5 separate regions of the Homo sapiens genome follow, and regions 1, 2, 4 and 5 are each linked to region 3. Evidence: fine-mapped expression QTL. A gene starts in region 3. Each other region holds a variant in brackets. All regions are shown on one strand. Distances are between the middles of the regions.

Region 1 (5,554 bases), 55 kb before region 3:
CAATGCGGCTGATACAAATCACATGCTTCTCCTGAGATCCTAAGGGCCTTACTTAGGTTATGCCTTGTCTAGTGATTGAGGCTGCAACTGTTCAGTGACACTGCCCATGTGGTTTAAACCACTGTAATGGTAATCAAATTTGATGGTGATCCAAATAAAAATCTAACAAAAATCCTGGAGTGGCCTGCACTCCTCCAAGTAATATGTTAGTGTAAGGAAGAATGGGTCACAAAATATCTTTCCATTAATCATGGTAGTTAATTTTTTTTTTTTTTTTTTGAGACAGAGTCTGGCTTTGTCGCCTAGGCTGGAATGCAATGGTGCGATCTTAGCTCACTGCAACCTCTGCTTCCCAGGTTCAAGTGATTCTCCCACCTCAGCCTCCCGAGTAGCTGGGATTACAGGCACCCGCCATCATGCCCGGCTAAGTCTTGTATTTTCAGTTGAGACGGAGTTTCACCATGTTGGCCAGGTTGGTCTCGAACTCCTGACCTCAGGTGATCTGCCCGCCTCGGCCTCCCAAACTGCCGGGATTACAGGTGTGAGCCACTGCGCCCAGCCTGGTAATTACTTTCTTAAAAAAATTTTTACAAGGGTAGTGGGCTATTGTAATTACTGGTAATGACACCAAAGATCAGAGATCAATCTGAACCCCTGTGCACAGGTCACAGTGGTTAATAGACTGGTCTTAGACTGCAGCCCAGATGTCTGAAATAAGATTCCTCGGTGCCCCCAGGACTTATTCACAAGTGGCTGAATCCAGGACCCTGGAGGGCATGGTTGAGGTAAATACTGTAAGCTGGCCTTATTCTGCTGCTTAGAGTCCCATTGACAACAACCTTAATTAAATGCTGTAAGGGACAAACTGAAAAGATGTGAGTAGCCAGGGGAGTTGTATATTCATGTGAAAATCTGCTAGAAGCCAAGACCATAGAATCGAGGAGTGAGAGAGGCTGTCAGATTGCTCGTGCCTCTACACATCATTCTGGGTATACCAAGAATGCAAGGCCCTGACTGCATCTCACCTGGGCCATTTCTCATGGTTGTGTTTGCAGCAAGCAACTTTGAGAGAAGAGGCAGTGTCTCCCTCCAGGACAAAGAGGAGGTCTGCGTACTGCCTTCTATAAAACAGCAGATTTTCCAAGCTTGTCGTTCCTTCACTTGGATGCAACCCACTGCCTGTGCAGTCATCCATTTAAACCCATAGCGTCACCCTGTGGGACTTGGATGGCAAGGGAAACTGCTTCTAACATGCATCCTATTTCCTGTAATAAAGTCCTTTGTCTCTAACCCAGGAGTCTCATCTTCTGCCAGCAGTCACGACACAATAACAAGCTAATTTATTAATTTCTAAATAAAGCAACCCTGACAGTCTGTTTTCTTGCCTGCTTTTTGCTTAAAGAATTCCATTTCTGACACCCAGTATCTGGATAGTACAAGCTAAAACCTTTAAGAAAATAAATCTCTTCTCACAAGAAGAGTTCTGCCTCATAAAATCCTTTGGTCACCATACCTGAACACCCAAACTGTCCTTGCCCTATAGGATAAAGGTACACAGTTAGGTATTTTCTCCTCTGTTGATGCCTGAAAATCCTGCAGACATAGGAACTCAGGCCTTAGAAAATTCTGTACCCAAAAATTTGCAATTCTCTTTGGAAAGTTGAAAGCACCTTTAAAAGCCACAATTTGCAAGCCAGGTGATGCACTGTAGCATAACCTGGAAGACATGAGGGCTGCTTCCTCAGATACTAAGAATCCCACTGCCCCACCACCAGAGCAAAACGATCCCCCTCCCAGAGAATGCACCTCGCCAGAGGCCAACCCACCCGATACCTCAAGTTCCCCTCCACCGTGGCCCTCCTCCTATAGATCCCGCCCCCTCCGTACCCTCGGGCCAATCAGAGGGCGGCGTCCCGTCGCGGTTGCCATGGTGCCCGCCGAGTCCCTCCCATCACTCACCAGATGTGCGGCGGCTCGTCCAAGCGGTGGAAGCGGGTGGCGAAGGACAGCAGCGTCACCAAGGCCAGCAGGGCCCACCAGCCGACCGCCTCGAAGCGCCGTGAGCCCCAAGCAGGCCGTTTGGGGCTTCGCGCCACAGCCTCAGCGGCCACGTCCCGGCCTGCGGCCCTAGCAGCCTGGGGGCCACAGCGGCCCCTCCGGGGACGCAGCTCGGACTCTGCCAGGCCTCCGCCCGTGGCCGGCGGCATCTTCCCCCTCCTCTGGGTCGCCCTCCGGCCCGGAGGCACACTTTGTCTGACCAGCCGCCCCGCCAAGGAGTCACAAGAGGGCAGCTCGGGGTACCCCGGGAAATGCAACGCCCTTCACTGCAGCGGAGCGCGGGGCCCCGGGCTCGGGGCGGGGCGGGCAGCGTGGTCGCGGCCCGGGCCGCTAGGAGGCGGCAGGAGGCGCAGAGCATGTCGGGACCGGGAGGGCCGGCCGGCCCGGGGCGGGGGGGACTGGGCAGGAGGGGTCGGGCTCAGGGAACTGCAACTCCCAGCAGCCCCCAGGTACGGGGCGTGGCGGGAGAGCTGGGCGAGCCAGAGGCGACCGGAAGGATCTTTCTAGTCCAGCCCCTCGCTTTACCCGGACGAAAGACACGGGCCTGATTCGTCGAGTCTCACTGAGCCTTAGTCGTCGGCAGGTCCCAGGCGCGAAGTTTCTCGGCCTGGAGGAGGGGGTCGCGCGAAGTGCCAGATGCAGGCGGGGAAGGTCTGTGACGCGCACCCGGGTGGAGGGAAGCTGGTTAGACACCTGGAGACCCTGGGGGGCGGGGTCAGAAGTGAGCTGCACCGCCCGCCCAGGCCGACAACGACTCCCGGCATGCAGTGCTTTGCGCCGGGCACGCTCTGCGCCTGCGTGCTGCGCGCTGCCCGCTGG[G/T]GCTCGAAGTTCCGGGAGGGTTGGGCCAGAGGAGGCGGTCCTGGTAGGGAGTGCGTAGCAGGGTGGAGTCGCTGTCCGGTCGCGCTTCACTTCTGCTCCGCCCTCCCTGCTCCCCATAACAGACCCCTCCCTCCACTAAGGCTTCCAAACGTCGCCCCAAGCCTCCCAATTTCTCGCAGCCCTTCATGCTCTTCTCTTGGCCCTAGCAGGAGGTGACCTTCCAGTAATGTTTGTATTTTAAGAGTCCCCGGGCCGGGCGCGGTGGCTCACGCCTGTAATCCCAGCACTTTGGGAGGCCGAGGCGGGCGGATCACAAGGTCAGGAGATAGAGACCATCCTGGCTAACACGATGAAACCCTGTCTCTATTAAAATACAAAAAAATTAGCCAGGCGTGGTAGCGGGCGCCTGTAGTCCCAGCTACTCGGGAGGCTGAGGCAGGAGAATAGCGTGAACCCAGGAGGCGGAGCTTGCAGTGAGCCGAGATCGCGCCACTGCACTCCAGCCTGGGCGAAAGAGCGGGACTCCGGCTCAAAAAAAAAAAAAAAAGGCCCCGAGCGAGGAGAGGCAGTCATGACAATCACCTGGGGAGCTTCACGGCTTTCACATGTTCTTCCCGGGGCCTGCTCCAGAGCCACTCTGTTCATCTCTGGTGGAACGGGCTCGAGAATCTGCATGTTTTTATAAGCGGTCTAGATGGTTCTTAACGTGCCATGAAGTTTGAGAACCACTTTTGTGGCACTAAGGAAGGTGGCACGTTAGATGGGACTTTGCGTCACGTTAATAATGTATAGTCCTCCCTCTTCCAAATGGGATTTTAGGAGTCTTTTTCTCAAATCATGTGTAAGACATGGTTTAAAAATAAAATCTGCTAAAGTAATCAGAATGCATATTTGAATTGGAAACACAGGTCTTCTAGGAGTGCTGATGAGATGGATACTTGGGCTTAAAGTTTAGTTCTACAAGTGCAGAAAGGAACGGGGCATGGTTTACATAGTTATCACTGGTAAGAGAAGGCAGAAATTGCCTAAGAGATTTCAGGTTTCCTGCTTGTGGGTCGTGACGGAGGGCAGCAGCATTTACCATGCTTCTGGTCACTCGTAGTACAGATCCAAAGGTGTAATCCAAAGGCATTTAGCCATTAGGTAAGGCATTTCTTCAGGGATTCTAAGCTAATTAATGTCTGCCACACTCTAGTGGTCACCAGCAGTCCCTGTCCCTTGGCACCAGGAGTCCCTGTAGCCTGGCTAGGTAAGGAAAGGGAGTTGCATCTCCAAATAAGGAAGATCCAGTTGTGGCCACCCAATTCCTCCTCTTCGAAAGACACTTTCTGCCCATCACCTGCTTTCTGTGCCAGGACCATCTTTACTTTCTCCACAAAAGGTACCTTCAGGACAGGCTGGGACTGCTGGGCTTGGGAACCATCTTGGAAGGGCCTAGGTTCCCACTTACACCCTTGCCATCTAGCAGACTGAGTTGGTAGTACAGGGATGGCAATAGCAAGTTCAGAGAGCAGCTTAATATGCTAGGGGTGGCAGAGGGGAGAGGGAGCTTTGGTGAAATGTCTATAGTCAGAGGGGTAGTAAACAGGGCATCTGAGAAGTTCTTTCAAGTTCTCCCCTATCCATAGGGATACACATGTTTTGGTGGGAAGATTCATGAGTGCTAATCACTGGCGAGTCTTTCCTGGGTTCCACTTTGAAATGCTGGCTCCCGAAGAAGTACCAGAGAAATTAACTTTGAGCCCCTTAAACCTTGGAGTAGAGATCGCACACCCAGCTGCCCCCAAGGGCCCAAAGGTAACAAAAATGAGAAAAGTGGGCCAGATATGGGCCATGGCAGACCTGAGAGCGCATACGCTGGTTGATGGGGGCCATTAGTCTGTTCCCATCAATTGCTGCTATTTAGGAACCCAAATCTGTCTCCAGATTTTTTTAAAGAAAAAAAACAAACAGGTGTTGTATATAAAATATCATGATTTTTATTTTTATTTTATTTTATTATTTATTTATTTTGAGATGGAGTCTTGCTCTGTCCCCCAGGCTGGAGGGCAGTGACACGATCTTGGCTCACTGTATCCTCCGCCTCCTGGGTTCAAGCAATTCTCATACCTCAGCCTCCCAAGTAGGTGTGATTACAGATGCACACCACCACACCTGGCTAATTTTTGTTTAGCCATGTTGTTTCGCCATGTTGGCCAGGCTGGTCTCGAACTCCTGACCTCAGGTGATCTGCTGGCCTCAGCCTCCCAAAGTGCTGGGATTACAGGCATGACCCACCATACTAGAATGAAATGTCCTGATTTTTAAACATTGGCAACTACTTGAAACATTTTAAACTACTGTGTTGAGCAAACAGAAATTCTGAGGGCCAGATAGGGCCCCAGTGAGCTGCCAGCTTTTGACCTCACCTTTGGGGTGAGTGAGCATATCTGCCAGCTGTTTTTATGGGGACAGCCGAGAGCCCGGAGGACTGCTGGGAGGTGGGGTTGAAGGAGATATGTACCAAAGCGTCAAAAAATTAGAATTCCTTGTCTTGCTGCATTGCTAGAGGATGCCCTGCCATCATTTTAGGGCAACCTTTGTTTTACAAATGAGGGAGCCGAAGATTTAAAAAGGCAGAGGTTTGTCCAAGGTCATGCAGAGCTGGTTCCTGCACCAGGTCCAGACTCCAGATGCC
Region 2 (6,209 bases), 38 kb after region 3:
GGCACTTTGGGAGGCCGAGGCAGGCAGATCACCTGAGGTCAGGAGTACAAGACCAGCCTGGCTAACATGGTGAAACCCCGTCTCTACTAAAAATGCAAAAAAATTTAGCTGGGTGTGGTGGCGTATGCCTGTAATTCCAGCTACTCAGGAGGCTGAGGCGGGAGAATCGCTTGAACCCGGGAGGCAGAGGTTGCAGTGAGCCGAGATCGTGCTCTCCACGATCTGCACTCCAGCCTAGGTGACAGAGCAAGACTCAGTCTAAAAAAAAAAAAAAAAAAAAAAAAAATTTAATAAAGCTGTACCAATTCTTTGGCCTAATAACTTTATTTGGAAAATTATGTACAAGGAAGTTCAACTAAATAAGGCATAGTTACATAAATTATGGTACATCCATACTTTGGGATATTATACAACCTTAAAATCTATTTTTTTACATTAATCTCTTACTAATATAATTAAAATTTTAAATCCTGAGATGAAAACAGAGAAAGGAAGAATAGTGTAGGGTGTCTAGTGGTCTTAGCCACTGCTGGGCACAACTACATAGTCTGTGCATCCAAACACCAGGTACAGCAAGCACACCCTGCTAGGGAGATGCAAGAGACTGTGCTCAAAGCCTGCTGGGGTAACCTTCTACTGTGGGAAAGTGGAGGGGCTTAACATCATTATTTCTTATTGATTGATTAATTGAGACAGAGTCTTACTCCGTTGCTGAGGCTGGAGTGCAATGATGTGATCTCACCTCACTGCAAGCTCCGCCTCCTGGGTTCAAGTGATTTGCCTGCCTCAGCCGCCTGAGTAGCTGGGACTACAGGAACCCACCACTACACCTGGCTAATTTTTGTATTTTTAGTAGAGACTGGGTTTCACCATGTTGGCCAGGCTGGTCTCAAACTCCTGACCTCAGGTGATCTGCCCACCTCGGCCTCCCAAAGTACTGGGATTACAGGTGTGGGCAAATCATTATTTCAAAAAATGTTAAACGATACGAGAATATGCTCATGATACATTATGTAAAAAAAAACAGAATACAAACAACTGTATACAGTGTCGATTACTGATATAATTAGAGAAAAAAAAAACACGGGAAGGAAATAACCCGAGTAGATTATAGGTAGTTGTATCCTTCCTTGTAGACAAATTTTCTACAATATGCATATTATTTTACATTTTTTATTATTGAAGTATAATTTACATATAATGCAAAACACAGATATGAAGTGTACAGTTTGATCAGTTTTGACAAAAGCATACACCCATTTAACCCATACCTCTCTCTCAAGATATAAAACATTTTCATCTCCCCAGAAAAAGTTGCTTTGGGACTTTCTCAGTCTATCTCCCCAGAAGAAATCATTGTTCTGATTTCTATCACCATAAATGGAATCATTACAAAACTTTTTTTTTTTTTTTTTTGAGACGGAGTCTTACTCTATCTCCAGGCTGGAGTGCAGTGGTGTGATCTCAGCTCACTGCAACCTCTGCCTCCTGGGTTCAAGCAATTCTCCTGCGTCAGCCTCCTGAGTAGCTGGGACTACAGGCACGCACCATCATGCCCAGCTAATTTTTGTATTTTTAATAGAGACAGGGTTTCACTATGTTGGCCAGGATGGTCTCAATCTCTTGACCTCGTCATCTGCCCGCCTTGGCCTCCCAAAGTGCTGTGATTACAGGCGTGAGCCACCGCGCCCGACCACAAAACATTTTTTTAAAGTCAGTAAATGTCATTTTTAAAAATATAAGGCCAACTGCAAATGCCTGGAACTGTTTAACACCCAACCAGACCCTAACTGATTCAGTTAGAAGATCTGAACTCTGTATGGAAAGCTTCCCTGTATCAAAGATCTGGAAAGATACTTCACCACCAAGGGCACAGGGAGGAGACATGGATATAAAACACATACATGGAGAAAAAAAGTCGCTTTAAAGAACAGGAGAAAAGGCCATGCTTCTAACCTTTCTTAGGGCTAGCAAGCTGAGAACTCCACACGCTGTATGCAAGGATTCCTCTTTGGAGGACCCTTTCAAAATGGCTTTGTTGACACCTACACAGCACAACCAAGCCCCCTTTCTACCACACACTGCTCCTCACCCAGAGTCTCTGGCCTCCGAGTGGAGATCCGCAGGCTTTCAGCAGGGATGGGGCCAAGCTGCAGCAGTGTGCCAGCCAGCTGCTTCCCAAGGTGGCCACCTCCAATGATGCCCACCTTAAACTCTTCAGGAGTGGCTGAATTAAGGGAGCCAATTGAGAGATGTCTGGAACTTTGATTCTTATTTAATGATGCTCTGGAGAATGAACACACAGACACGTACATAAATACATGCACACACTAGTTTTTCTTTTTTTTTTTTTTTTTTGAGACAGAGTCTTGCTTTGTCGCCCAGGTTAGAGTGCAATGGGGTGATCTTGACTCACCGCAAGCTCCGCCTCCCAGGTTCACGCCATTCTCCTGCCTGTCTCCCGAGTAGCTGGGACTACAGGTGCCTGCCACCACTCCCGGCTAATTTTTTGTATTTTTAGTAGAAACAGGGTTTCACTGTATTAGCCAGGATGGTCTCCATCTCCTGACCTCGTGATCCACCCGTGTTGGCCTCCCAAAGTGCTGGGATTACAGGCGAGAGCCACCGCACCCGGCCTAGTTCTTCTTAACTGTCATTCTCTGACATTTTCTGCTTTGTCATTTAAGGTGCTTGGTGGCACCTTAAGTACTTCGGAGATAAGACATTTCAACTGTGTGTCATTTATCCAGCCTCACTAGGGAATGAAATGTTCCTCCTGAGTTAATTTTCCAGAAACAAAAGTATAACCCTTTTCAAGGGACCAAAATTTAAAATGTTTTAAATGAACATACTTTGTTACATGTATTATGCTTGCCTGGTTAAACAGTCTGAATATTTAATCATTTCACTGGCTCAGGACACCACTGTGAACAGCCACTATTATACAGCATACTGTAATGTCTATAACACATTGTGGGCCAGTCCCCTCATGTTTTGTTTGTTTCTGTGCAGACAGCTTTCAATTTTTTTTTTTATTGTGGTTAAAAAACACATGCTGGGTACGGTGGCTCACATCTATAATCCCAGCACTTTGAGAGGCCAAGGCAGGCAGATCACTTGAGCTCAGGAGTTTGAGACCAGCCTGGGCAACATGTAAGACCTCGTCTCTACAAAAAATACAAGAATTAGCCAGGTATGGTGGTGCACACCTGTAGTCCCAGCTACCCAGGAGGCTGAGGTGGGAGGATTGCTTGAGCCCAGGAGTTTGAGGCTGCAGTGAGCTGTGCTCGTGCCACTGTACTCCAGCCTGAGTGACAGAGCAAGACCCTGTCTCAGGAA[AACACACAC/A]ACACACACACACACACACACACACACACACCATGAACTTCACCATCATAACCATTTTTAAAGTGCACAGTACAGTTGTGTTAATTATATGCACATTGTGGCTAGGCATGGTAGCTGATGCCTGTAATCCCAGCACTTTGGGAGGCCAAGGCGTGTGGATCACTTGAGGTCAAAAGTTTAAGACCAGCCTGGCCAACATGGTGAAACCCCATCTCTATTAAAAATATAAAAATTAGCCCAGCATGATGGTGTAAACCTGTAGTCTCTGCTACTCAGAAGGCTGAGGCAGGAGAATCTCTTGAACCCGGGAGGTGGAGGTTGCAGTGAGCCAAGATCCACTACTGCACTCCAGCCTGGGCAATAGAGCAAGACTTGATCTCAAAAAAAGAAAATACATATAGATAGATAGATAGATAGATAGATAGATAGATAGATAGATAGATAGACAGACAGACAGACATATAGATATAGTTGTGCAACAGCTCTTTAGAACCTTTCCATCTTGCAAAACTGGAACTCTATATGCTTTTTTTTTTTTTTCGAGACAGTCTCCCTCCATTGCCTGAGCTGGAGTGCTGCGGCACAATCTCAGCTCACTGCAACCTCCACCTCTCACATTCAAGCAATTCTCTGCCTCAGCCTACTGACTAGCTGGGATTACAGGCGCGTGTCACCACACCCCACGCCCAGCTAATTTTTGTATTTTTAGTAGAGATGAGGTTCTCCATGTTGGCCAGGCTGGTCTCGAACTCCCCACTTCAAGTGATCCGCCCACCTCCGCCTCCCAAAGTGCTGGGATTATAGGCATGAGCCACCACACCCGACCTGAAACTCTATACAATTTTTCTCTCTCCCCAGCCCCTGGAAACTACCATTCTACTTTCTGTTCCACTACTTTAGATACCTCATATAAGTAGAATTATGCAGTATTGTCTTTTTGTACATGGCTAATTTCACTTAGCATAATGTCCTCAAGCTTCATCCATATCAATTTTTGGATTTTTTTTCTATCTTCATGAAAAATGTCATTGGGATTTTGATAAGGATTGCAGTGCATCTGTAGACAGCAATCTACAGGGTCATAGGACAATAGCGTGGGAAGGTCAGCAGATAAACAAGTGAACAAAGGTCTCTGGTTTTCCTAGGCAGAGGACCTTGCGGCCTTCCACAGTGTTTGTGTCCCTGGGTACTTGAGATTAGGGAGTGGTGATGACTCTTAAGGAGCATGCTGCCTTCAAGCATCTGTTTAACAAAGCACATCTTGCACCGCCCTTAATCCATTCAACCCTGAGTGGATACAGCACATGTTTCAGAGAGCACAGGGTTGGGGGTAAGGTCACCGATCAACAGGATCCCAAGGCAGAAGAATTTTTCTTAGTACAGAACAAAATGAAAAGTCTCCCATGTCTACCTCTTTCTACACAGACACGGCAACCATCCGATTTCTCAATCTTTTCCCCACCCTTCCCCCCTTTCTATTCCACAAAACCGCCATTGTCATCATGGCCCGTTCTCAATGAGCTGTTGGGTACACCTCCCAGACGGGGTGGTGGCTGGGCAGAGGGGCTCCTCACTTCCCAGTAGGGGCGGCCGGGCAGAGGCGCCCCTCACCTCCCGGACAGGGCGGCTGGCCGGGCGGGGGGCTGACCCCCCCACCTCCCTCCCGGACGGGGCGGCTGGCCGGGCAGAGGGGCTCCTCACCTCCCAGTAGGGGCGGCCCTTTCTTATTTTTAACGTAGGCATTTACCCCTATAAAGTTTGCTCATAGTACTGCTTTTGTTGCAACCCATAAGTTTTGGTATGTTGTTTTCATTTTCACTTAAGATATTTTCAAATTTTCCTTGTGATTTCCTGTTTGATTCATTGGTTGTTCAAGAGTTGTGTTGACTTCCACATATTTGTGAACTTTCTAGTTTTTCTTCTGCTATTTCTAGTATCATTCTATTATGGTCAAAAAAAAAAAAAAAAGACGGTTGGTATGATTTGAATCTTCTTAAATTTGTTAGGACTTATTTTGTGACCTAACGTGATCTATCCTGGAAAATGTTCCATGTGCACTTGAAAAGAACGTGTATTCTGCTGCTGAGTGGAGTGTTATGTACTTGTCCATTAGGTTCTAATTGGTGTGTCATGTTGTTCAAGTCTTCTGTTTCCTTACTAACCTTTTGTCTGGTTGTTCTATCCATTATTGAAAGTTGGGTATTAAAATCTCCTACTATAATTGTATACCTTCAGTTATGTCAATATTTGCCTCATATATGTGGATGTTCTGATGTTAAGTACATATATAATTGTTGTGTCTTCCTGGTGAATTGGTCTTTTTATCATCATGTCATTCTTTGTCTCTCATGACAGTTTTTGACTTAAAACCTATTTTGTCTGATACAAGTATGACTACTCCTGTTCTTTTTTGGTTACCATTTACGTGGAATTATCTTTCTCTATGGTCTGACTTTCAGCCTATATGTGTCCTAACATCTAAAGTGAGTCTCTTGAAGACAAGATATACGTTGGATCTTGTTTTTGTTTTTGTTTTTTATCCATTCAGCCACTCGGTATCTTTTGATTGATGGGTTTAATCCACTTACATTTAAAATAATTACTGATAGGGAAGGACTTATCACTGCCAGTTTGTTTTTTTCTCTGTGTTGCAGTTTTGTTCTTCTTTTCCTCTCTTGCTGCCTTCTTTTGTATTTCACTGATTTTTTTTTTTTGTAATGACATTATTTTCTTTTTGTTGTTGGTATTTTCTTTGTAGTTACCGTAGGAAATTGCATAAAAATCATAAAAATAGTTGTAACAACCTATTTTAAGATGATAATGTCAATCATATACAAAAACTCTACTTCATCTTCCCCTACC
Region 3 (6,209 bases):
GGTATTCTCTGCAGAGAACACTTTTAAAAAACAAGTTATGGTTATTCTGGATAATGACACATTCCTGCTTTGAAGGAATAAGATACACCAAAAAACCAAAACCCTTAACTCAACAATACCTGATATGGCTTGGATGTTTGTTCCCTCCAAATCTCACGCTGAAATGTGATTTCCAATGTTAGAGGTGAGGTCTGGTGGGAGGTGACTGGATCGTGGAGATGAATCCCTCATGAATGATTTGGCATCATCCTCTTGATGATAAGTGAGTTCTCACTCAGTTAGTTCACCTGAGATATGGTTGTTTAAAAGAGTCTGGGACCTCCTCCCGTCTCTCTCTCTCTCACTCCCAACTCTCGCCATGTGACATACCTGCTCCCCCTTTCAGTATGATTCTAAGCTTCTTGAGGCCCTCACCAGAAACAGATACCAACACCACACTTCCTGTACACCCTGCAATACCATGAGCCAATTAAAACTCTTTTCTTATAAATTACTCAGTCTCAGGTATTCCAAATGGACTAACAGAACACCTGAATATCCAATTCCATTTCTTACTGCTGTTTTCTCTCTGAAAGGGTGAGAGAAATCTCATTAAATTTCATTCTTTCTTAGAGCTCTATTGCTTACTCATTGTATCATTTTCTAGAGGAAGATGGCAGAAGGATCCAATCAAACGAATTCCAAGTTTAAAGCAGTTTTTTGGGGTTTACGCCCAAGCCTCTGGTCCAGGCCAAATATAGTATTTCCACACTGCTTTGGAAGCCCAGCTTAACTCTAACACAGCGTTCCCAAAAGCAGCACCACTGACATCTGGAGCCAGATACCTCCTTGTTATGGGGATTGCCCTGTGCCTTGCAGGATGTTTAGCAAACATCCCTAGCCTATCCTCACTAGATGTCAGCAATAGCTGCCACCAGTTGTGACGAGCAAAAATGTTTCCAAACATTGCCATGCCCTGGGGATACAAAATCGTACCTGGTTGAAAACCATTGCTCTAACCCAAGGAACATTCTTGGTTATCTCAACCCTAATTCTTCACATTCATTAGATGCTCATCCAGATCTCTGCATTCAGACTTTCTCTCACCATCAAACTCAGCAAATATTTGCGAAACCTCTAAAACACAACATCAAGGGCTCTAGATAAATAAACAAGCAAGAGAGATTCCGTTCCTAACTCCAAGCAGGTTTCTTAGTAGATAAAGAATTGTAATAAAAGACGCCCAATTATATAATGTTTTGAATTGTTAATTGTTTCTCCCTGAAATGGATCTCTCATCTCATCAAACTGAAAACACCTTGAGGACAGAGACCATAACCTGTCTGCGAGTACCAATACTTGATTCATGGCCAATAAAAACAAACAATTATAGACTTCATCATAACAAGATGACAATTTCATCCAGACAGTAAAAACTTGCGCTAACTTGAACAGGTAAGTTAACCTTTCTCAGCTGTAGTTTGTTCCTCTGTAAAATGGGAAGAAAATGATTGTTGACATGACTAAATCAGAAAATATAAATTTTTTTCCACCTCTGGCACAGAATAAGCATTCAATATCTGTAGGTTATCATTACTATTATTTTATTAGCAACAAATCCTACCTCAAGAGGAAGAGCTTGCTCTGGGCTACTATAATAAACCCCTACATGACATTAAAAAAAAAAATTATCACCCTGCATTCTGAGGGTAAGAGGAAGGAAAGTAAGCATCTCTACCAATGTCCTGGGAGGAAGTGAATGCAGGAATGAATTAGATGTCAGGGGGAAAAAAAAACACACTCATCTATCTAAAACGCGTGGGTACGTTTGCCATAAACACATGAGAACCTAAAGGGGAAGTAAAAACATGCTTAATTTGTAAATACTGGCGCATGCAAGGGACAAGTGTTATAAGACTTACCTTTCTGTGTTTACTTGCTTAGTCTTTTAGACATTATGCTTAGAATTTCTACTGCTATGTTAAATATATGCCAACGATTTTTAATTTAATACAAAGCAGAGTTCGTAAGAAAAAAAGGCAAAATTTGTCAGGTGTTTTAAAGTAAAAGAATATAAAATCATGGGAAAGAGCTGGGTGAGTTGTGTGTGTGTTTGAATAAGGCAGCATTATGAGAGGGAAGATACTTGGGATCAGAGTAGAAGACAGAAAAAGGCACCATGTTGGAAGCCATACATCCAAGAACACCTCTGGCGGCACAGGAAGTTCAACTGAACAAAAAGAGACCTTACTGTCACAATGGTTGAGACGAGTATAGTGTGTACCATGGACTATACCCCAAATGCCTTAGACAAAGCAGCTCAAGTAATCCTCACAATAATCCTATGAGGCAGATATTTTTAGTAATCACATTTTACAGATGAGGAAACTGACGTTTCAGACTCCAATCCAGGCACCCTGGCTCCACAGTAGTGCCTCAACCATTATACTTTATGGTGTCTATTTTAATTTCAGACCTAGAAAATTAATTTATATTTGCTACTTAAATAAGACAAGTTCTCTCCCCTCTACCCTTTCGTATTTCAAAAGAGCATCCTTTCAGTTGCATCGTGTGTGGTGTTCAGGAGGCTGAAAGAAGAAAGTGTGATGGATGGACTCTTTTGTCTTTGGACACTGAAATAATACACACGGAGGAACTCGCGTTAGTAGAAATGGAGACGTCGTCCTGGACAAGAAGAGGATGAGGGTCTTGAGAATGAGGGAGGTAGGCCAAATTTTTAATTCCTGCTCTTGCTTTGGCTACTGTGTTCAAGCAAAAGACCCCAGACACTACCTATTTCAACTCTGCTTTTCATTTTTCCCACTCTAAGCGATGGAGAGGATGGCAGCAAGGCCAGGGGGCCTATGTGCAGGAAGGCTAGGGCGCAGTGGGCTTCTGGCAGAGGAAGGCAAGGCTGCCAACCCGGGTGGGGGCCGAGAGGCGCGTGGTAAGGCTGGGGCAGGGGACTGAGATGGGGATAGGGTGGGGAGCCAGAAGCAGGGGGCGGCGAGGCCAGTAGGGTTCGGGTCGGCAGTCTAGATGTGATTAGCAGACGGAGGTGGGACCCGAACCCCGGCTGAAGCTGAAACTGAAGCTGAAGAGGCGCCAGGGGCAGAGCCACCCTGTCACTACCATTTGGGCAGATCTCAGAAAGGAAGCGGGGCAGGAATCAAGGCATTTCGAAACAGGAGTGAGTAGAAAATAACCTCGAGCCCAGGGCCCGGGTGGTGGCAGCGGCGGGGAAGGGGCCCCGCGCGCGAAGGGGCTGCCGAGGTGGGTCCGCTCCGCGGGGAAGCCCAGGACAGAGCGCGGCGGAGGCTCGCGCCGTGGTGCGGGGCCCTGAGGCCGGGCGGCACCCACCCGCCAGCGCCCCGGCCTTGCGTACCTGAGGCGGCCGCCTGGCTCCCCTCCACTCCCTGGCAGTCCCCGACGCCGCCAGCCGACCCTGGGCGGGCTGTGGGGCTCCAGGAGCCCGGCCCCTCAGCCGCCTGCAGGTCAGACATCTGCAGCCCGCGCACGGAGCTCTCCGCTGCCAGCCGCGAGTGGCTCCGGAAACAGCCGAAGGCCGAGCGAGCGCCGAGCACAGCCGAGCGCAGCCTGCAGGCCGGAAGAAGCGGCGCGGCGGCCGCTTGAAAAGCTAGCTGACCCAGGGGCGGCCACAGGAGCTCTGGCCCGCTGAGGCTGGCGATGAGGCCGCAGGGAGGGTTACTGCGTGCTTGTGACAGACGATTTTTAAAGTCAGGGCTTGAAAGAACAAACAAAACCTGGGGAAGAGTCAGGAAGACACTGCCGGAAATCGTGGTATCCATAGAGACGCTATCGGAAGTTGGGGTTGCTAGGAAGCCGCGGCGCGTCTGCTAAGCTGCAAATGGCTGAAGTCCCGGAGGATTATGATTCCGGCCCAGATGAAGATGGAGAGCTGGAGCCTGAGAGGCCTGAACTGCCTGGACTTCATAAATTGTATGAAAATGCCGAACCAGACACCATGGCAAAGGCAGACTCGAAGCTACCAGCAGAGATTTACCAAGAGCCACAGCCAGAGACCGAGGAAGAGGACTTCAAAGAGGGGGAGCCAGACAGTGCTAAGAACGTGCAGCTGAAACCTGGCGGGACGTCCCAGGAAGGAATTGCCAAGGAGTCCAAGAGAGACGTACCAAGCGAAACTGAACCAGGGATACACCAAGAGGTAAAGTCGGAAACATCCAGAGAGATGGGAGAGTTTTTCAAAGATTTGGAGGCCCCTATGGATGAAACGCATAAAGAGTCAGACCTAGAGCCACCAGAGGAGGCTAAACCAAATGTTACAGAGGATGTGTTCCTAGAGTCAGCTATGGAAACAGATCCAGATCCAGTGCCACCAACGGAAACCATGTCTGAGGTTTCGGGGGCCACAGTCAGAGAGAGAAATTTAGAATTACTAGAGGAGGAGACTGAACCGGGGGTTCCAGAGGAATCACTTAGAGTGCAACATGAAGAGACAGGTCTAGAGCCTCCAGAGCAGACCAAACAAGATTTTCCAAGTGAGAAACTAGGAGAATCACTTGAAGAGACAGATCTTCAGCCACCAAAGATGACCAAACCAGAGACTCCAGAGGAGACACAAAGAGAGTCAACTGAGAAGAAAAGGACAGAGCCACCCGAGCAGGCTAGACTGGAATTTCTGGAGAAGGAACCAAGAAAGTCTAGTGAGGAGGCAGGTCTAGAGCCTCCAGAAGAGACTCAACCAGAGGTTCCAGAGGAGATGCAAAGAAAGGCAACTGAGGAGAAAGGGACAGAACTACCTGAGCGGACTAAACCAGACTTTCCAGACCACAAGCCAAGAAAGTCTACTGATGAGAACGTTCCTGAGCCACTAGAAGAGATCAAATTAGAGTTTCCTGAGGAAGAATCAAGAAAAACAAATGAGGAAACAATTCTAGAACAATCAGAAATGATGAAACCAGAAAGTCCAGAAGAGATAAGAAAGTCAAATGAGAAAAAAAATCCACAGCCACCAGAGGAGACTGGTCCAGTGCTACCACAGGAGATCAACCCACAAGTTGAAGAGAAAACACAAACAAAGCCAACTGAGAAAATTCTAGAGTTACCAGATGAAACCAAACCAAGGGAGACACATGTAGAATTTTCCAAGGAAGACAGGCCAGAACCAATAAAGTCTAAGTATTCTGTAGGAAACGATGAGCTAGAGCACCGTGAGCCTAAAAGAGGAAAGTTGTCACTAAGTGACAAATTTAGAAAAGAATATTACGCATTAGGATCTCTCAGAGAAAGTGAAGAATCAATTGGTACACATTATGAGTTTTTGCAACCACTCCAAAAATTGCTTAATGTCAGTGAAGAATGCTCATACTCAGATCCCTCAGAGTCTCAGACAGAATTAAGTGAGTTCGTTCATGAAAAGGAAGTTGTAGATTTGTCCCAAGAGTTGAAGGAACGGGTCTCTGAAGATGACGAAACCCAGCCAGAAAAAGGGACTGAGTTACAATTTGAGCATCTTAATTGGGATCCAGAGGAAGTTGCAGAGTGGATTAGCCAGCTAGGCTTCCCTCAATACAAGGTATACAAAAATAAGATGTTTTGAAATCACATGCTGTCATCCGTCTACTTCTTATTCCTTCTAACTTGGCCTGAGCTCTTACCTCTTTACCGGAAGGAGTATCAAAAAGTCCTAGACTGTGGTAGAGGTAACTTGGATTTTAATTTTGGCCTTGCCACTGATGTATATTTGTATTTTGGGAGAGGAAGGGAGGGTCACATCGGTTTGTTTTTCCTCTTCCAGTGATTACACTTCTCTGCAATCCTTGAATAAAAGACCAAGAAGAGTATATAGACCTCCTTTCTTTTTTTTTTTTTGAGACACAATCTCGCTCTTGCCAAGGTTGGAGTGCAGTGGCACGATCTCGGCTCACTGCAAGCTCCACCTTCCCCAGGTTCACGCCATTCTCCTGCCTCAACCTCCTGAGTAGCTGGGACTGGGACTACAGGCGCCCGCCACCATGCGCGGCTAATTTTTTGTATTTTTAGTAGAGACGGGGTTTCACTGTGTTAGCCAGGATGGTCTCCATCTCCTGACCTCGTGATCCGCCAGCCTCAGCCTCCCAAAGTGCTGGGATTACAGGCGTGAGCCACCGTGCCCGGCCTTAGACCTCCTTTCATAGAAAACTGTATTTTTAAGTAGACTTTGTTCAAGGTAGGCTTTTTGGTACTTTGTCAAGTTATTTTAGTGGCAG
Region 4 (6,209 bases), 87 kb after region 3:
TTTGGGAGGCCAAGGTGGGCGGATCACGAGGTCAGGAGATCAAGACCATCCTGGCTGACACAGTGAAACCCCGTCTCTACTAAAAATACAAAAAATTAGCCCGGCGTGGTGGCATGTGCCTGTAGTCCCAGCTACTCGGGAGGCTGAGGCAGGAGAATCGCTTGAACCCAGGAGGCGGAGGTTGCAGTGAGCTGGGATCGCACCGTTGCACTCCAGCCTGGGCAACAGAGTGAGACTCCATCTCAAAAAAAATAAAAAATAGGTGAATACTACAATAAATATGGTGCTTTACCATGAAAAAGACCTGAAGTTTATTTGTGAAAGTGGGCATCAAAGCCAGGCGCGGCGGCTCACGCCTGTAATCTCAGCACTTTGGGAGACTGAGGCAGGTGGATCACGAGGTCAGGAATTGGAGACACACCTGGCCAACATGGTGAAACCCCATCTCTACTAAAAAATACAAAAATTAGCCGTGTGTAGTGGCACGCACCTGTAATCCCAGCTACTTGGGAGGCTGAAGCAGAAGAATTGCTTGAACCTGGGAGGTGGAGGTTGCAATGAGCCAAGATCATGCCACTGCAATCCAGCCTGAGCGACAGAGCAAGACTCTGTCTTGCGGGGGGAAAAGGTGGGCATCAGAAGGGTTGCAGCTTGAGGACTACTATGGAATGGTAGAAGGAGAGTCATCCACAATCAGAGGGAACATTACACTCGTTGAGGATGGGTATGGCTCACAACACACGCTGTAAACTGAGGTCATTGGCAGATAGGTGTTTGAGATGTGTGTGTTTTATGTATCCTGTGTAGCTGGGTGAGGCTTTCCGTATTCACCTAGTGTTTCTCATGGATGGAGTCACATATAAGCAAACATGAACTTCTCATTATAATCAAATTGTTCCCTAATATTTCAGTTGCACTGAAATAAATTGATATTTTCAAAACAAGTATTCTAGCAGAACTACTGGCTTTTGACCCAAGTTCTCATGGTATAACTCATGCTAGTACCAAATCTGTAGCTCTTTGTCTCACATTGTAATAACATAGTTGGTTTCCAGTAACCTGGTGAGGAAAGACATTTCTTTTGGGGGTGCGGGTGTTGATTGCATCTGGCATGTGGCATTCTCAGAATAAAGAGGATCAGTTCAGCCATCCAAAAGCAGCAGAAGTGAGGTAGCAGTTAGGACCCTGGAGCAGAGACCTTTCCTGCCAAGGAGTGGACTAATGACATTGCATTGGTTTTGACAGGTACTTCTAAGTCAGGAGTACAATACAAAGGACATGTGGAGATCCCCAATTTGTCTGATGAAAACAGCGTGGATGAAGTGGAGGTTTGTGCTTCATAACTCCTAATCCGAGTCCTCTATATCCTCTTATTCTCAGATGAGAAAAGTGACCTGTCATTCAGGATTCATAGCCCAGGCTTGGTCCAAGCATTCAGAACCCTAGCCTGCAGATAATTTTCTAGGCATATGGTGCCATTGGAAACTTCTAGAGCAATTTGCACTTCTTTAATTTCTTCACTTTAGCTAGTGACATGGGTTCTAACTAACATTAGCCACTTGACAGAGAGGACTCAAGAAGGAACACTAATGGGGATTGTACGAATACCGCAGTACTCATGCATTTCCTTTGGAAATGTCAGCAGTCACCTGATTGCTCAGCCCCCACATTCCATAATGAGGGTGCCCCTCAAGTTATTTACCACCTACTTCTCATCTTTCACCCAGATTAGTGTGAGCCTTGCCAAAGATGAGCCTGACACAAATCTCGTGGCCTTAATGAAGGAAGAAGGGGTGAAACTTCTAAGAGAAGCAATGGGAATTTACATCAGCACCCTCAAAACAGGTATCCCTTGAGTAGTTCTGTATGCCTTAAGGAGGTAGTTTCCACCTGTTAGACTCTGGTTAAGGGCCTGGACAGTCCTTTCTTTGGCAAATGGGTAAAGATTTGGGGGGAGGGGGCTTATTTCATCTTAAAGTCAGTCCATAAGCTCGGAGTAAGGGAAAGATCTGGAGCTGTGTTGCCTAATAATGATGGTTGAGCATTTTAGATGTGGCTAGACCAAACTGAAATGTACTGTGATGGCCTGGCGCGGTGGCTCACACTTGTAATCCCAGCACTGTTGGATGCTGAGGTGGGCTGATTGCCTGAGCTCAGGAATTTGAGACCAGCCTGGGCAACATGGCGAAACCCTGTCTCTACAAAAAATACAAAAATTAGCTGGATGCGGTGGCCCATGCCTGTAATCCCAGCTACTCGGGAGGCTGAGGTGGGAGAGTGGCTTGAGCCCAGGAGGCAGGGAGGTTGCATTGAGCTGAGATCATGCCACTGCACTCCAGCCTGGATGACCAAAAAACACAAGAGATGTGCTGTGAGTATAAATTACACTACGGGCTGGGCACAGTGGCTCACACCTATAATCCCAGCCCTTTGGGAAGCCGAGGTGGGCGGATCACCTGAGGTCGGGAGTTCGAGACCAGCCTGACCAATAGAGAAACCCCATCTCTACTAAAAATACAAAATTAGCCGGGCATGGTGGTGCATGCTTGTAATCCCAGCTACTCAAGAGGCTGAGGCAGGAGAATTGCTTGAACCCAGGAGGTAAAGGTTGCGGTGAGCCAAGAACGCGCCATTGCACTCCAGCCTGGGTGACAGAGGGAGACTCCATCTCAAAAAAAAAAAAAACAAAAAAAAAACTGTATTTGAGGCTCACATTATATTTCTAATGGACAGCGCTAATCTAAAGACTTGGCATCTCTGGACTCATTACTTGAATACAGTCTGGACTATCTTTGATATGCACTCTCCAGGGATATTTAGATGCTTAGAATAGAAGTCAGCTCAGCTTTCCCCTGGGATTCCATTTCTGCCAGTGTATTCTGATCTTGGTGTTGGAATATGTATAATAACCATCAAAGAAGGTGATGGAAGGTGATAGACACCTTTTTGGGGAGGACCAGTACACCAGTGCCATAACTAGTTGTGGCTTTTCTGCAGAGGTAAGGCAGAGTGGAGGAAAGGCACTAACCATGCATCCATAGGTGCTGGGTAGATTACCCACTCTTGAAGTCATCAAAGTGCCACGGCGTTCACGCCATCCTTCCATAGTAGACCTCACATGCACTTAATATGTTATAATGTTTCCAGTTGAGTCAGGATAAGCTTTTAAAAATAATCCCAGTGGCCAGGTGCAGTGGCTCACACCTGTAATCCCAGCACTTTTGGAGGCCGAGGCTAGTAGATCACAAGGTCAGGAGATCAAGACCATCCTGGCCAACATGGTGAAACCCCGTCTCTACTAAAAATACAAAAATTAGCTGGGCATGGTGGTGCA[C/T]GCCTATAATCCGAGCTACTCAGGAGGCTGAGGCAGGAGAATAGCTTGAACCAGGGAGTCAGAGGTTGCAGTGAGTTGGAGTGCAGGCTGCACTCCAGCCTGGTGACAGAGCAAGACTCCATCTCAAAAAAAAAATAATAATAATCCCAGTGAACATACTGTATTCTATAGCATATACCCAGGTACCAGTCTGGCATAGGCCAAAAGTAAAGATGTAAAAATAGCCTCTTCCTTTTCTGGTCATAACCTCATTCTGTGGTAGGATGGCTGTGTTTGTCAAGCTGTAATGAAACTCCAGATCTCAGCTACTAAGAAGTAACTTCCATGAGCTGGAATTTTATCTTTTCAGAGTTCACCCAGGGCATGATCTTACCTACAATGAATGGAGAGTCAGTAGACCCAGTGGGGCAGCCAGCACTGAAAACTGAGGAGCGCAAGGTAAATGGTTTTCCTGGGGTGGGAGACTGTCTGCAAAGGAACTTGAGAGACCGCCTTCTTAATTCCACATATCAGCTCTCTGTGTCCCTAACCTCTAAGCCAGACCAGCCTGCGATCTGCTCATGGTGCTTTTTCAGAGCGCCTGCAATATGCATTCATTCACCCATCTTTAACCTGGTTTTAATTCATTTATCGCAGACCTTTAGAGCAAGTAGGAGCTATCAGACAGTTAAAAGTCTGACTCTTGATTGCATTTAGCACCAGTTAGGAGGTTATGAACAAAGGATGGACTTCACCTATATAAGTCTTCAGTCTAATTGGTGTGTTGATATTTCATACTTTGATATTAGAGGTCCCATCAAGAAATGGAGTTACATCCCTGTCTTCACCCAATCTCCCCAATTTTCAGGGTGAGCAAGTACTTTATCTAGAGATGGAAGTTTGTGGTTCAAGCTCAGCACTTGGTTTAGAGCCCTGTTGCTCTTTTGTCAGCATAGTGAAGTGGATACTCTGGAAGTGGGGAGAAAACCGCTTCCAGCTATTTAAACATAGAAATTGTTTGAGAATTACACTGAGCTCTTCAAAAATATCTCAATGATTTGATTTGTTATTTGACTATCAGGGTCTTCCTTGTAGAGTGGTTATTTTTACTGGGAATTGAGGAGGTTTCCAGAATCATTACCCTCATGACTGAAACACCTACACACTCAAATTCCCTTCAAACCCCTTGGAATAATTACCCTTGGAGGTGAACATTTTTATGAGAATGAATGGTACAACTGTCTCTGAAGCCACGTTGATTGAGGTTGTATCATTACTCTGTATTGATCATTTTCACTGCCACCTTCACAGGCTAAGCCTGCTCCTTCAAAAACCCAGGCCAGACCTGTTGGAGTCAAAATCCCCACTTGTAAGATCACTCTTAAGGAAACCTTCCTGACGTCACCAGAGGAGCTCTATAGAGTGTTTACCACCCAAGAGGTAAGTAAGTCTTGTCCTTCAGGCCTCATGCCATCTGCCCTTCTAGGTGACTTGAGTTGGGGGCATATCCCTTCAGCAGTGTACAGAAGAGGTACTCACAAACTCACAACTGGAGCCATGAGGCCTTCATCAAAGTGAATTTTTCCCTCCCTCTATTCTCTTTTTTTTTTTTTGAGACGGAGTCTCGCTCTGTCACCTGCCCAGGCTGGAGTGCAGTGGCACAATCTCAGCTCACTGCAACCTCTGCCTCCCAGGTTCCAGCAATTCTCCTGCCTCAGCGTCCTGAACAGCTGGTACTATAGGCACACGCCATCACGCCTAGCTAATTTTTATGTTTTTTAGTAGAGATGGGGTTTCACCATATTTTTTAGTAGAGATGGGCTGGTCTGAAACTCCTGACCTCAAGTGATCTGCCTGCCTCAGCCTCCCAAAGTGCTGGGATTACAGGTGCAAACCACTGTGCTCGGCCATATTTATTTATTTTAAAAACAAAAGACCTGGTCTTGCTATGTTGCCCAGACTAACGTTGAACTTCTGGGCTCAAGCGATCCTCCTTCCTCAGCCTCCTGAGTAGCTGGGACTACAGGTGCACACTACCGTGCCTGTTCCAGTTTTGGGTCATATAAGTAGAAACCACTGAGTGAATCTTACTAGAAAAGTGAATGGCCATTCTTGGTTACTCTGTAGCACAGAAGAATTCCTGGCTTCTTTGTGTTGCACAGCTGACTTGTGCCATTCTGCTGCTATAGTGTGGAGTTGAGAAACATGACCGTATTCAGCTTTATTATCTGATAGTAAAGGTGGTTAGGATATGTGGAAGTTCCCATATACTCTGGGACAAAATTTCAAGATCTTATTTTTTAAACAAAAATGTAAATACAGCCATAAATTAAGAGGTACCATGTAGTATATGGGTGTTAGTATGTCTGTGCGCCTGCACCCAAAATACTCTCGTGATAAGTTCTCTCCCCCTTAGAAAACCAAGAACTGGAGAAGCAATTAAATGGACTGGGTTTTCTAGAAATTTAAAAAGATGTGTATAAACAAAATTGTACTGTACTTCAGAAAGTTATCTTAGTTGACTCCAGAGATGTGTTATGACCTGGCTATGCCAAAGACTGCATTCGATGGCTAACTTGGTTCTACTTGGTGCCTGCTGCCTTGAAGGACTTAGCAGCATAGCTGTGGTCTTCATGTGAATTGAATTTAGCACTTCAACACAGACTTCAGTTGAATCTCTGCTTCCAAACTAGCTAAAGTTTTCAGAGTTTTAAAATACTTTTGTATGGGAGGATTCCTAACATTTTTAACCTTCTGTTTATTTTTAATTTTGTACCATGTATTCGTATTACCTACTTTAAAAAATAGTAAAGTCTTATTAAAAGTAAAAGCGGCACCGTTGGGTAATCGAACACAGCAAAATGATACTGATTTCATATATATGGAGTAGGCCAGG
Region 5 (6,209 bases), 37 kb before region 3:
GCATGCCTATTTGTAAATGAGCTCCACTATCATTGGTTTTAGGCAATAGTGTTTTCTTAGCTTAGAAATTTCTTACCTTAAGAATTCAAACAGGAGGGGCTTTGTTTAGCCTTCTTGGTTTAGGCAGGGACAATGCAACACTTGAGAGGCAGCAGTGATTTCTGAGCAAAATTCTAAGATATATTCGATAGGTTTGCTCTCCCCTCCCCCCATACTCCTACCCTTTGCCCCCTAATTTTATTTTGTTTTCCCTCGTTGTGATCAATTTTAAAAGACAGTTCTCAAGCAGCACAAAACGGTGTAACTTATGCCCCTCCCTTATGCTCCACTAAAACAAGTCTCTTATGTAAATATTAGGGTCACTCAATTCCACACCTTAGAACCACTGGGGTTAAAAGGCAACCTTCTGCAGATAAGTGGTCTTAACAAACAAATATAAAAGCAGACTTTAGAGTCTGGGTTTCAACTAATTCTCTCAAAGAGGGACTGAGCAGGACTCATAAACATAAACTCATATTCCCTACAGATTAAGACTTTTTATGATAATACCTAATTCTACTGCTTAATATAAGACAGCGTTCAGATTTCACTCTTCCATATACATATTATAATGGGACAATATACACTTTTTTAAAAGTCTGAGTTTTTCTTCCCAAAATAACAAAAATATTTTTTAAAGTGCATGTATCAATTCATTAAGAAAAAAATAACTAAGAATGGTCTAATTCCAAATTGCTACCTACTTCCATGATAAAGCTACCTGTTATCTAAGGATTGAGTTTTAATATCAGAGTCCTGAGGACATGTCATCAAGCAACAGAGGTTAGCATAAAGCCCTTCCGGAGCAGCTTCACAATCACTCTTGTACTGACATGCCAGTTAGTAAGGAAAACAGCAGAGATCATGGCCTGAGGGAAGGGGAAAATACAGCACAGATGTATTTTCTTGAAAGATGGAGACCAAGAAACAATTTTTTTTTTTTTGAGACGGAATCTTGCTCTGTTGCCCAGTCTGGAGTGCAGTGGCATGATCTCGGCTCGCTGCAACCTCTGCCTCCTGGGCTCAAGAAATTCTCCCTGCTTCTGCCTCCAGAGTAGCTGGGATTACAGATGCCCGCCACCACGCCCAGCTAATTTTTTGTATTTTTAGTAGCGACGGAGTTTCACTATGTTGGCCAGGCTGGTCTCGAACTCCTGGCCTAAGGTGGTCTGCCCACCTTGGCCTCCCAAAGTGCTGGGATTACAGGCGTGGGCCACGGCGCCTGGCCTCCAAGAAACATTTTTATGAAGACCACCTCCTGGGTAACCCATGTTGAATGAAACAGGTCTGCTAAAAATCAGGGGCTCTCCAACAGAGCCGATATGCAGGGGACATTCTCAGCATTCTCTAATTGGACACTTGTCAAAAGGAACAGAATGTTAGAATCATCTTTGCCTAGGAATTGGTAGTTTAAAATTTTTACATTTATGCGGGGAGTGTGTGTATACATATATATACAGCAAACCAAAAATAAATTCTAAATCCCCCAACCGGCTGAATGGACCCCTGTCTTGGCCCAGGGGATCTCAAAGGAACCTGAAAAACTAGTCCATGATGGGAAGACAGGGTGCCTCATATTATGGTCAGATTACAGGGTGCCTCATATTACCCTCTTCCCTTTGGAATTTAAATACAACTGACCAGCATTAACATTAAAACAGAGATCTTAAGACTAACCAAACAGACCCTTTGTGGCAATAAAATACCAAATCCCAACCTGACTCTGGTATAGCATCACATGACAGCAGGCCCCAAAGGAAATTTACCCCCCAATATATTTATTTGACGTATTTTGAAATGGCCCTACAAAGCTGTCTCTTGTGGGGGAAACTGCATTCTGTAGAGAATCTCCTTCTCTTATTAGGTCTTTTCTGGAGAGTCTGACACCTTTTAAGGCCTAAAAAGAAAAATTCATCATCTGTTCTCTCTGAAGCCTGCTACCTGGAGGCTTCATCTACATGACTTAAGCCAAGCCTCCCTTACTTTAACTTAAGCTGACTTCATCTTTTCAGGTAAAGTTTAACTCTCTCAACCAACTGCCAGTCAGGAACTCTTTGATCTACCTCTGACCTGGAAACCCCCATCTTCAAGATGTCCTGCCTTTCCAGGCCAAACCAGTGTATACCTTACATGTATTGATTTATGGCTTTGCCTGGACCTTCTGTCTCCCTCAAATGTATAAAACTGTAACCCGACTACCTCGGGCACATGTTCTAAGAACCTCCTGAGGCCCCATCATGGGCTCTGAACCTTGGCAAAATAAACCTCTAAATGTATTGAGACCTGTCTCAGATACTTTTTGGTTTACAATATATTTATATTTCTTTTAAGCTGTTTGCTGAAATTTTTTCACAATAAAACACTGGGGGAAAAGAAATCAATACTTTAAATATGTCTTCCTTTCTAAAAGGCCCATCTCTCAACAAAGTGGCAAAACTAAAACTAAAGAAATTTAAGAACTCAGTCACTATAGAGAATTCCAATCTCTCTCCTACTATGAAGCACTTTCTTTCAATTGTTTGTTACTATTTGTTTGTGCTCTAGAGAACAGGGTGAGGATCAAAGCAAACGGTTTTCATTTCATTGTTTGGGTCTATAAATTTGGACTGGGAGGGGCTGAGGAAATGACTGTCTCTTAGAATTTGCTGGGCTGTGGGTTCTCAGTAATTACCTGTGCTTCAGTAAGTAGTATCTTGCCCCTAAAGTTCAATTATTTCAGAAATGTAACATGAAAATAGTGAATTAGACAGTGAAAATATCTTCTTTTAGCTATTTTGTGCTAATGGAACACAGAAACCCTGACAGTTGGTGAAAAACCAGTATGAATGAAATGTAACCATGCCCAGGACTTCAAAAGTGACCAGACCCTAAGAGGCACACAGAGGTGAGGGGAACAAGTCCCTTAGGCTTCCCTGATGCAACAGAACTAGGATTCCAAAGAAAATAAGCAGAGAATCTCATGGTGAAAATAAATAATAACAAGTGTTATCCTTGGGAGCTTGCTGTGTATGGCCTGACTGTTTCAATTTGAGAGAAAGGCAGAAGTTAATAATAAACAGGAAAAATAAGCAAGGCTTTAGCTGACTAGAAAACAGCTCAGTAGAAAATTATTTTACAAAGATTATATTCAGTTAGCTAAGGCATGATTCAACTTCAATGATGCAAGAGCGGTCACTCAGCTATCCAATGGGATGACACACAGCAAATCAGCTCTTCACTGCCTCAACAGACAGTCACTAAAATAATTTCTTTAAAGGTATATAAATGTTGGCCAGTGTAATCCTCTACAAAACACATTTGCAAATATAAAATAATGGAGGTATGATGCTGCTCAGAGAATGGGAATGCTCTGGCAGTCCCCAACATCCTATCCCACTTGGGGCTTTGCTCCGAGGGGAAGAGCAGGTGCAGGATATATTGCCCTTTGATGTGATGTAGATGCTACTAGGGACCCACTGGGAAGAGTCCCGTTCCTTGAGTTATGCTACTGTAGGGATAGACCCTTGGTGTGAGGAATCTAACAATGAGTCAAAGGAAACATCACAAAGAAGGTGACACCTCAGAGGAGACAAAGGACTCTGAAATCCTGGAATCACGGGATATCTCTGATTGGTTAGGGAATTCCTCTGCACTCAATCTCCAGCAAATGGGCAGATTCCCTCACAACTTAGAATTTTTCA[T/C]GGGGAGTGCTGGACTGTACCCCAAACATGGAGTAAGGTGGCATCATCCATCTCTGAAGGGCCATACTCCTCGCAAAGCCGTCACAGGACTGACCTACAGAAATAAAACATCATCGCTTCCCAAATTCTCCTAAAAATATCATCTTTAACTCCATAAAAGAGGGGGCTTCAGTGGCTCAGAACAGATGGGAAGCCTTCTGAGAAACAGATGGAAACTGTTTCAAAGGCAAAATGAAATGTGCTAAAAAAATAAATACAGTAATAAATAAATCTAATTATTCTTCAGAATTCGTAGGCAGTAACAGACATAACACGAGGAGTAAGAGACAGGGAGGTACAAACACAGAGACTGCTGAGGTCCCATCTCACCTCCGTCTCCTCCTCCGCCTGGGGGCCCAGCAGCTGGTGCTCTGGTGACCACTGGCTGCAGCACTACCTGCACTCTGTGGCACTCCTGAGCCTCAGGGGTGACACAGTAGGAAATGCTGTCACCAGGGAAATGCAAGCTTTGGTCAGGTAAAGAACAAATACAATCAGCAGCAATAGTGAAGCTTCATTATCACCTAAACTAAGGGACTTTGAACACCAAAAGCTTTAAGCCCTCAATGCAAGAAAGCTAAATGCAGAAACTTTGGAAACCTGATTGGGTTTCACTGCATTTGATTCCAAAGCAACATTTCTAAACAGCACTCCTACTCTAAAGACAAAAAAAAGCGGTGGGGACTCTGGAGTGTTTTTTGTTTTTCATCTTCTCTGTCAGATGATACCATTCCTTCTTTGATTATACCAAAAAAAAAAAAAAAAGTAACACGACTTTCAAATATGTGGGTTCTGACATCAATTCAGTACCTAATTTCCACTCTCTCCACTTTGACTGCCAGTGCCCATAGTAAGGGAAACCAGCTCTTGGAATAGGAAATAATGGGGGCAGTTTTTCTTCCCACAAGATCTTAGGTTACATTGATCATCACTTGAGATTGCATGAATGTTCTTGCTGTAATGGCAAAAACATAGACTTAGGAAAGAGAAAGGAGGGGGTGTCTACCATCAGGAATAGTAATAGCCCTCCAAAGGCAGTGTGGTCTCCCAGCTATGCAGAGACCAAGAATAACCAGCAGGCAGGAATATGGCAGTGGTGACAGGCTGGATAGAGCTTTCTCCAACCAAAAGATGGGGCTCCTTCATGGGCAATGTGCTTTTCCCTCTTCTGGCACCTCAACAACTGAAGAGAGTGGGTGCCACTAAATGCACTGGCAATAAGGGCTGTGGGAGAGGAGAGGGCAGCAATCTGAATGATAAACCTGTGCCAAGATGAATCTATTTTTAAAAAACATCGCCCTGCTTCCTTTTAGGCTTGTGCCCCATAGGTGCCTTCAAGAGGGAATTTGCTGGAGTCTGAAGCAAGAAGGGTATGAGTCAGGGACTACAGAACAGGGGCACTACACCACCACCTGCAGAAGCCAAGAAGGGGAAAAAGCTACGTGGGCCAACAGTCAGGCATGCCAGACAGGGTGTGAGGCTCAGCAGCCCCCCATGAACCTTTGGCTCTTGCCTATCCCAAACAAGAGGCACCAGCTGGCAGCCTGCTTCAGCCAGCAAATACAGCCTGCCCCTGTCCCAGCAGTCCTTCAGCTGGTGTAGTAGATGTGGAAGTAGAGAGTCTTGTTGCGCAGCAGGGAGTAGGAGTTGTCGAACTTGAGCAGGTAGATGCCCTCACCAGGGTAGTCATGGCTGCCAGCCTGCACGTCTCGGTGGCTGTCCCGCCGGTACACAGGCATGACCTCCCCATAGCGACCCCGCAAGGAGCTCCTGGAGCCTCTCTCCACATCTCCAGCTGGAACGGGTTCTGCGTGAGCAAAATGGCAAAGTGTTCAGAGACTGCGTAAGTCCTGCCTGAAGGTGAGCGGAAGGACCAGGTGACCCAGTGGCTTTCACAGAGCGGGGAGATTATTGCCCTCCTACAGACATTTGGAAATGTCTGGTGATCTTTTGGTCATCACAGTGACTATTAGGTGATATCTGCATTTAGTACCCAAGGGTCCAGGAGTGCTAAAATCAGGATAGTACCTACACAACAAACAATGTCCCATCCCAAATGCCAATAATGTCTCCACTGAGAAAATGATTTAGCCTGAGAGGAGCCTTCCTAGCTTCAGAAGTGTCTGGACATTTCTGAGAGGGAGAAAGAGATATTTAGAAGAAAAGATCCCGATATTCTATCATTTAGTAGGTGAAAGGACTAGCTAACGAAGATAGGAATTGCAGATAAACGTGCTATAAAGTGACCCTAGGATTCCTGAAAAGCAGCAAATAAGATACAAGGTTCTCCGCTTTCCCAGATACCTGTAGGTTTCCCTGCCCGCTTGCTGTTCTATGAAGAAGCACGTTAAAGGACTGACTTTAAGATTATATAAGAAAATCAAGGAATAAGAGGAATAAGACTAATGCTTAGGACCTACTCTTACGTTATCTGAAAAATGCCTCTGGGCC

Direction of the effects. Alleles are on the strand shown, and positions count from the first base shown. SD is a standard deviation of normalised expression in the study named. Not every link is listed here.
In carriers of allele AACACACAC in region 2, the expression in Th2 cells of the gene that starts at base 3,523 in region 3 tends to be lower than with A alone (large effect, 0.88 SD a copy in Schmiedel 2018).

The links. PIP is the estimated chance that this variant, and not a neighbour inherited with it, causes the effect.
Region 1: its variant is fine-mapped to the expression of TMED8 in whole blood (INTERVAL, PIP above 0.99). The same link has a PIP of 0.9 or more in blood mononuclear cells.
Region 2: its variant is fine-mapped to the expression of TMED8 in Th2 cells (Schmiedel 2018, PIP 0.95).
Region 4: its variant is fine-mapped to the expression of TMED8 in whole blood (TOPMed, PIP above 0.99).
Region 5: its variant is fine-mapped to the expression of TMED8 in Th1 cells (Schmiedel 2018, PIP 0.95).

The regions. Positions count from the first base shown.
Region 1 is chr14:77,318,475-77,324,028 of GRCh38, forward strand. It overlaps POMT2 (protein O-mannosyltransferase 2), which reads right to left and starts at 2,409. Exons shown (of 21, transcript NM_013382.7): 1 at 1,960-2,409. The coding sequence starts at 2,207. It overlaps GSTZ1 (glutathione S-transferase zeta 1), which reads left to right and starts at 2,562. Exons shown (of 9, transcript NM_145870.3): 1 at 2,562-2,709. The coding sequence starts at 2,695. RefSeq lists silencers at 1,896-1,945, 2,176-2,555 and enhancers at 2,636-2,905, 2,783-3,644, 3,176-3,225. The variant G/T (reference allele first, on the strand shown) is at 2,878.
Region 2 is chr14:77,411,842-77,418,050 of GRCh38, forward strand. NOXRED1 (NADP dependent oxidoreductase domain containing 1) reads right to left here. Exons shown (of 6, transcript NM_001113475.3): 2 at 2,093-2,286. Among named protein-coding and RNA genes, the nearest start is that of NOXRED1, 8.6 kb to the right of the region's middle. The variant AACACACAC/A (reference allele first, on the strand shown) is at 3,340.
Region 3 is chr14:77,373,572-77,379,780 of GRCh38, forward strand. It overlaps TMED8 (transmembrane p24 trafficking protein family member 8), which reads right to left and starts at 3,523. Exons shown (of 6, transcript NM_213601.3): 1 at 3,365-3,523. The coding sequence starts at 3,482. SAMD15 (sterile alpha motif domain containing 15) reads left to right here and starts at 3,808. Exons shown (of 3, transcript NM_001010860.4): 1 at 3,808-5,536. The coding sequence starts at 3,848. RefSeq lists a silencer at 3,101-3,530 and an enhancer at 3,581-3,790.
Region 4 is chr14:77,460,915-77,467,123 of GRCh38, forward strand. It overlaps AHSA1 (activator of HSP90 ATPase activity 1), which reads left to right. Exons shown (of 9, transcript NM_012111.3): 3 at 1,246-1,328; 4 at 1,728-1,845; 5 at 3,684-3,772; 6 at 4,625-4,753. Among named protein-coding and RNA genes, the nearest start is that of AHSA1, 5.9 kb to the left of the region's middle. The variant C/T (reference allele first, on the strand shown) is at 3,335.
Region 5 is chr14:77,336,424-77,342,632 of GRCh38, forward strand. TMED8 (transmembrane p24 trafficking protein family member 8) reads right to left here. Exons shown (of 6, transcript NM_213601.3): 6 at 1-5,565. The coding sequence ends at 5,348. Among named protein-coding and RNA genes, the nearest start is that of GSTZ1, 18 kb to the left of the region's middle. The variant T/C (reference allele first, on the strand shown) is at 3,720.